Homo sapiens: one gene and its partner. The protein of the gene in region 1 purifies or fractionates together with the protein of each later gene. This does not show direct contact. Each region holds a gene or a part of one and is shown on either strand. Other genes may lie near its edges. The genes, in order: CDK14 and CCNT1.

Region 1 (3,826 bases):
AACCAAACAGATATAATATATTAAATAGTGGTAAATGTTATGAAGAAAAATAAAGCAGAGAAGAGAAACTGGAGGTTTTAGGGTGGAAGGAGGTCAGTGAAGTCTCTCCTGAGAAGGGACATTGGTGGAGAGAATCAAATGAGGTAAGAGGGCAAACCATGCGTATGTCTAGAGGGAGAGCAAGCACAAAATATAAGAAGAAGAAACAGTGAGAGCTGACTTTAAGGAGGCAAGAAGAGAAGCAGGCAAACCAGGTAGGAGGCAACTGTAAAAATGTGGGTGAAAGATGGTGAGTGACTGAGGGCAGCGTGATAGCAGTGAAGTGAGGAGTGGCGTGCGTGATCCTGGATATACTGTGAAGGTAGCAACAATACGGTCTGTGGAAGAACTGAATGTGGAGTAGAACCAAAAAAAGATGATTAGGGATACCTTCCATCAACTGGAAGAATGATGCTGCTATTTATTGACAACGGTAAGACTAGAGAAGGCGCAAGTTTGAGGGGAAAGATGAGTTCAGTTTTGGTAAGATTAAGTGTGAGAGGCCTACTAGATGGTCAAATGGAAATGTTGAGTGTCAGTTGGATATGCAAGTCAAGTCAGGGAAGACAGGACTGGAGATGGATATTTGAAAACTGCCAGTGTATAGATGATATTTAAATCATGAGATGGGATGAGATCATCTAGGCTCCAGGGAGTCCATGCAGATAGACAGATCTGAGGATTCAGCCCCAGGACACTCTAATGTGAAAGGTCTGGCAGATGAGGAGAAATCAGCAAAGGAGTGTGAACAGGAGACTTTAGTTTTCTAAACTAAAGGAAAGCAATGAGAGAATACTGTCCTGGAAACCAAGCGAAAGAAGTATTAGTAGGAGGAGATGGTTGTCAATTGTGTTGAATCTTCGATAGGCTGGGAAAAGACCAATGGATAGAGACTTCGAAAGCCAGGCGTTGTGGACACAAAAGCCTGGTTGTAAAGGATTCAAAACAGCATGAAAGTCTACGAACTGAAGGTAGCAAATCTTAAATCTGAAATGGGTGCACCTGTTTTATTTTTAAAAAGACAGCATAGAGCTACATTAAGAGCATTATGCTGTTCTAGGATGATATACAGAACATATACAGGAATATGTGGGAAAATCGACAAACTCTAGAGCTAGAAAGGTCCCTGGAGACTACTGTGCCCACCTCACTTGCTCCTTAAGTGAGAAATGGGAAGCTCAGAGAGACCAAGGCACTTGTCCAAAGTTCCCTGGCTAGTTAACAGTGGAGCTGAAGCTGCAATCCAGGTGGTCTGATTCCCAGTTCAGTGCTCTTCACACTGTACCGATTTGTTGGCCTTCTTTCACTGAATTTGAGTTTTGTGAATTAGCAAATGAGTGTAATAAAATCAAGGACTCTGTGCTATGAAGTGTATTTTGTTCATTTACTTTGACAAGGGTAGTTCAGCTTCAATTATTTATGTAACTTGATAGTATATGCAGGAGAATGCCCTGTGGTGTATTTGGGAAAAGTAATGAATTTCTTCTAAATCAGCCCTCCATTTACTTCCCTGCAATTAAATCTTTGAGAAGAAGTGGGACAAAGCTGTTGGGGTTTCAGGACAGAGGGAGAATGACAGGGTGCCACCAGAATTAGCCAGCTTTAACAGCCAGATCCCCAGATAACTGTACCATTATTCTTGCTTTCTGCTTTTATAATTCCTGCTTCAGTGCCACACTAATACATTACCTCTAAATTTTGGTACTATGTAACCTGATGAGGTTTTAAGGAATAGTATACTAAAGAAAGATATTACATTACTATGTATTCTTCCAAAGCCAGAGTCTGACATAAGCCCGTAATTTCACTTTTGTACGAATCTATGAAATGACTGCAGGGCTCTGTGTTACTCAGGCTCCAACCACACTTGATGCCCTTCTCATGGGGTCTGACATATTACACTAGGCCAAGAAGGCTCAAATCTACTTGTAACTTATTTTTGTTCCCATCTTCTCCTTTTAACCTGACTTTGCTTCCTGCTTGCATAAGTGTTTTCCTCTTGTGGAAATTCTTTAGAAAGTGCTATGAGCCATCTTTAAGAATGAGAGTGCTATGGATTGAATTGTGTCCGTCCTCAAATTCATCTGTTGAAGCCCTAACCCCTAATGTGATGGCATTTGGAGATGGGGCCTTAGGAGGGTAATTAGGGTTAGATGAACTCATAAGGGAGGGGCCCTCATGATGAGATTAATGGCTTTGTGAGAAGAGGAAGAGATTGCTCTCTCCACCCTGTGAAGACACAGCAAGGTGCCCTTCACAAACTGAGAAGAAAGACCTTACCAGGAACCGAATCTGCTGGCACCTTTATCTTGGACCTCCCATCCCCAAGAGAAATAAATGTCTGCTGTTTAAGCCACCCAGTCTAAGGTATTTTGTTATTGCAGTGTGACCAAACTAAGACAGCGAGGTTCCTAAACTACAGCTTGGTTGCTAAGACAATCCATTTACTGGTTCTGTAACACTTCTTTCCAGGTGGATCTCCTTCCAAATCTCCTTAAAAAAGAAATACGTAAGGGTATTACAGGTGCTGCTGCTACTGCTGCCACTGCCACTGCTGCCTTTGCCAGATGGTGAACTTTTACAAGACTCTATGCTAATATGAAATTTAATTATAAAAATTTAAAAAACTTCTAAATATACTCTGCAGAATACTAACCTAGATAATAAGTCACCCAAACCAGTCATTTCACTTAAAGAAACCAATTCCCTAAGTCTCCAAAGTCTGGGAATTCTTTGTTTTGTAAACATGTTTACAAGTACAGCCACGTTGTTCTAAATGGAAATGACTATAGTATTTAATACTGGGATTGTCCTTTCTTGCAACTGGATTTATGCCTCATAATGATTATCTTCTAGACACAGAAATAGCATTTCTGTAACTCAAAATTGTTACCGGAGGCATTTAGTAGAATCTTGGTTTAAAAATATAATGATTTTTCATCTTTATTCTCCCCCCTTCAAAAGGTTTCACTGCTCCTGATGTTTAACGTTATGCAAAGACGTGTTTCTGCCAATGAATATCGCCTTACGGTTATGCTTCTGCAAATAGCCTGCTGTGAGCTGATAAAGGGATTAATGCAGCCAAAATTCTTAATCTGTAAAATTACAAATTAAATTCTCATATTAAAAATACCACCCTGAGGTATTTTTTGTGGTTTTAATTCCCCTCTGGTGTTCTGCATACTTTGTGCTTGTTAATGACGGGGACAAGGCTGTCTCCCTTGGCAGTCTGCTGCCGAGTGATAATGTGTAGGCATTTACTCACTGATAGAAACTGGATTTAACCACTGGCTGATAAACTAAGTGGCAAGTGGGTAATAAGTCCATATTAACAGAAAAGTACTACTACAGAATTCAGAATTCATAGACCATCAAAATCCTGGCTTAAACTCAATCTTCAAGTCAGATGGGATTGAGATGTCACCAAGGAGGAGTGATACCAAGTTACAAGTTACACTAAATGGGAAAACAAACCATATGTTTGAGTGTGATGAGCCGTAAACTAGTGAGCCTATTTACAGCATTTTTGTTTTCAGTATAGGAAAATTATTTTCCCATAGGGATTTAATTTTTAATTTAAAAAAAATTGAGGATAGCTGTTGTAATAGTCAGTGAGTAGACTTTAGAAAGGGCAGAGTGTTGAGTAAACATGGGCTGGAAATACGTGAAATGTTAAGGAGGATTTGCTAAGCATTAAGGGGAGTAGTAGATTAATATATCTATAGTGACTTTAGGGTTAAAAAAAAGTAATGAGAAATAAATGTGGGATATCAAAAAAAGATTTAGG
Region 2 (3,826 bases), on another chromosome or scaffold:
GTGGTGGCACGCAGCTATAGTCCTAGCAACTTGGGAGGCTGAGGTGAAATGATCACCTGCTCTTTATGAGAATCTAATGCCTGATGATCTGTCACTGTCTCCCATCACCCGTAGATGGGACCATCTAGTTGCAGGAAAAGAAGCTCAGGGTGGCCGGGTGCAGTGGCTCACACCTGTAATCCCAGCACTTTGGGAGGCCAAGGCGGGCGGATCACAAGGTCAAGAGATCGAGACCATCCTGGCTACAATCTTGCCACTGCACTCTATCCTGGGCAACAAAACGAGATTCTGTCTCAAAAAAAACAAAGCTGGCTGGACATGGTGGCTCACGCCTATAATCCCAGCACTTTGGGAGGCTGAGGCAGGTGGATAACCTCAGGTCAGGAGTTCGAGACCAGCCTGACCAACATGGAGAAACCCCGTTTCAACTAAAAATACAAAATTAGCCGGGTGTAGTGGCACATGCCTGTAATCCCAGCTACTCGGGAGGCTGAGGCAGGCAAATCGCTTGAACCCAGGAGGGGGAGGTTGCGGTTGGCTGAGATTGCACCATTGCACTCAATCCTGGGCAACAAGAGCAAAACTCCAACTCGAAAAAAAAGTTAAAAAAAAAAAAAATAGTGAAACTACTCATTTAAGGATCCATAATAAAAATGTATAATAATATTTTTCAGCCAGGTGCAGTGGCTCACGCCTGTAATCCCAGCACTTGGGAGGCCAAGGTGGGCGAATTACTTGAGCTCAGGAGGTCGAGAGCAGCCTGGGCAACATGGTGAAACCCCATCTCTACAAAAACTAGCTGGGCATGGTGGCGCACACCTATAGTCCCAGCTACTCGGGATGCTGAGGTCAGGGGGATCACTGAGCCCGGAAGGTCAAGGCCGCGGTGAGCCATGATCACACTACTGGACTCCAGCCAGGGCAACAGAATGAGACCCTGTCTCCAAAAAAAAAAAAAAGAATATTTTTCATAACATTTATAGTGATTTTAAAAGCTAGAAATTATCTAGACTTCTTCATGGAGAATTGTTAAAAATACATACATTCACATATATATCATTAAATACTAGCCAGACATTTTTAAAAAGTAGAGAATCCATCAGATGGGAAAATATTTGGGATATAGTAAGCAAATGAAAACAAACCAGAGACAAAATACATGCACACATAGCTATCTATAGAAAAGAAGCCACAAATAACAGTGGTTCATTAGTATACCTGTGCTTCAGTTGTCTATATAACAGGGGGTCCATGGCCTGTTATGAACTAGGCCACACAGCAGGAGTTGAGCAGCAGGTACGAGTGAGTGAAGCTTCATCTGTATTTATAGCCTCTCCCCACCATACATATTGCCACCTGAGCACTGCCTCTTGTCTGATCAGCAGTGGCATTAGATTCTTATAGGAGCACTTGAACCCTGTGGTGAACTGCCCATGCAAGGGATCTAATTTGCTGCTCTTTATGAGAATCTAATGCCTGATGATCTGTCACTGTCTCCCATCACCCCCAGATGGGACCATCTAGTTGCAGGAAAAGCACCTCAAGGTGGCCGGGCACAGTGGCTCATGCCTGTAATCCCACCACTGTGGGAGGCCAAGGCGGGCAGATCACAAGGTCAAGAGATCGAGACCATTCTGGCTAACATGGTGAAACCCTGTCTCTGCTAAAAATACAAAAATTAGCTGTGTGTGGTGGTGCACACCTGTAGTCCCAGCTACTTAGGAGGCTGAGGCAGGAGAATCGCTTGAAACCGGCAGGTGGAGGTTGCAGTGAGCCGAGATTGCGCCACTGCACTCCAGCCTGGCGACAAGAGCAAGATTCCGTCTCAAAAAAAAAGAGATGCTCAGGGCTCCCACTGATTCTACGTTATGGTGAGTTACGTAATTATTTCATTATGTATAACAATGTAACAATAATAGAAATAAAGTGAACAATAAATGTAATGTGCTTGAATCATCCCAAAACCATCTCCAACCCCACCCCCTGTCCATGTAAAAACTGTCTCCCATGAAACCAGTCCCAGGTGCCAAAAAAGGTCTGGGACCATTGGTCTAGAATATATCTGAGAGATATTTTATTCTTGAATTTTTCTGTATTTTCAAATTTTACTGCAACAAATACAAAACTTTCGCCATAAAATTTATGTGTTTTGTTTTTCAGACAGAGTCCTGGCACTGTTGCCTGCAGTGGTGTGATCATGGCTCACTGCAGCCTCAACATCCCATGCTCAAGCAACCCTCCCACCTCAGTCTCCCAAGTAGCTGGGACTAAAGATGTGAGCCAGCATGCCCAGTTGTTTTTTGTTGTTGTTGTTGTTGTTGTTTTTCTTTTTTTGTAGAAATGGGGTCTCACTTTGTTGCCAGAGCTTGTCTCGAACTGGACTCAAGCAATTCTCCTGCCTCAGCCTCCCAAAGTGCTGGGATTACAGGCATGAGCCACCACATCTGGCTTTTTTTTTTCTTTTTTTTAAATATAGAGACAGGGTCTTGCTATGTTGTCCAGGTTGGTCTTAAACTTCTGGCCTAAAGTGATTCTCCCACCTTACCCTCCCAAAGTGCTAGGATTACAGGTATGGTGAGCCACCATACCTGGCCTGATTTTCTTACTGTTAAGAAAAACACAAACACTAAAATATTCTTTTAACAACACCAATCTAAACTTCAATAAATCGAAGTTATAAAATTAAGTTGCATTGAAATACATAAAGATCCAGGCATGCTTGGGAGTAGGGAAAAAAAAAGAAAGGAAAAAAATTAAGAAAAACAGATGTGTAATTAATCTCCTACCTCACTTCTAGTATCAGGAAGGGATTCCTGAGGATGGAGACAAGTATGTGCTACCTTGATGACATGTTCCAATTTTTTGGGCTGCTCCTCCACTTTAGCTGCTAGAAACAAGGCTGCTGGAGCCACAGACTGAATGGAGAGAAAATAAATCATATTTATTATCAATTTATTCATTCATAGAGTAAGGTAGATCTAAAGAGGAGCTAAGTCTCAAATCAAGTTATTTGCTTGCCTCAACTTTGTCACCTCTTTACCCTTTCCCGCCCCCCCGCTTCTACCATCTTCCCCTCTCCTACCCATTAATCCATCTCCACTTCCAAATACCAATTCTTTGACAAACTGTCATTAAAAGCTGTCTATGGGAGAAGCTACTAGATGTAAGCAGACAGTTTTCTATTTAAAGTGAGATTCTTTATTAAGTTTGTATCAAATCACTCAATACATTTTTTAAGGAGTAAACTGAAATGTCCAGAATACGCAAATCCATATAGAGAAAAAGTTTAGTGGTTGCCAGGAGCTGCGGGGAGAGGAGTATAGGAATAACTGCTAATAGGTGAGGAGTTTTCTGGGGTGATGTAAATGTTCTGCAATTAGACTGTGCTGATGGTTGCACAATTTTGCGCATATACTAAAAACCAGTGAACTATATAATTTAAACAAACGAATTTCATTGTACGTGAATTATATCTCAATTACTTATACATATCGAACCTTTCAAAAATACAAAGCATGGCATTATATGCAAGACATTATTTATAGAAAGCATTAAGAGGGAAAAATTGAAGTCAATATAAAAGTAGATAACAAACTTTATAAAAGATTAAAGCAATATGACATAAATGTAGCCTGGTGATCTTGGAAACTTCAGGAAATAGAACTTTTCTTGAATATTAAGAACATTTCAGTGACTCAAAGATAGTAATGCTAAGAGCTGTATTTCACCAGGAGTCAAAGAAATACATAAATAATTTTACAGAATTTAAATATATATTTCATTTTACTGACTAGAACTGATATTCTAATACTTATTTGTAACCCTG

What was found.
Region 2: the proteins of CDK14 (region 1) and CCNT1 purify together in Homo sapiens (affinity purification with mass spectrometry, with the first as the bait; one large-scale study listed by BioGRID). This does not show direct contact.

The regions. Positions count from the first base shown.
Region 1 is NC_000007.14:91,113,808-91,117,633, reverse strand, and holds part of CDK14 (cyclin-dependent kinase 14), read right to left. Parts: intron 1-3,826. UniProt on the Homo sapiens protein: Serine/threonine-protein kinase involved in the control of the eukaryotic cell cycle, whose activity is controlled by an associated cyclin.
Region 2 is NC_000012.12:48,702,982-48,706,807, forward strand, and holds part of CCNT1 (cyclin-T1), read right to left. Parts: intron 2,916-3,826; coding exon 2,787-2,915; intron 1-2,786. UniProt on the Homo sapiens protein: Regulatory subunit of the cyclin-dependent kinase pair (CDK9/cyclin-T1) complex, also called positive transcription elongation factor B (P-TEFb), which facilitates the transition from abortive to productive elongation by phosphorylating the CTD (C-terminal domain) of the large subunit of RNA polymerase II (RNA Pol II).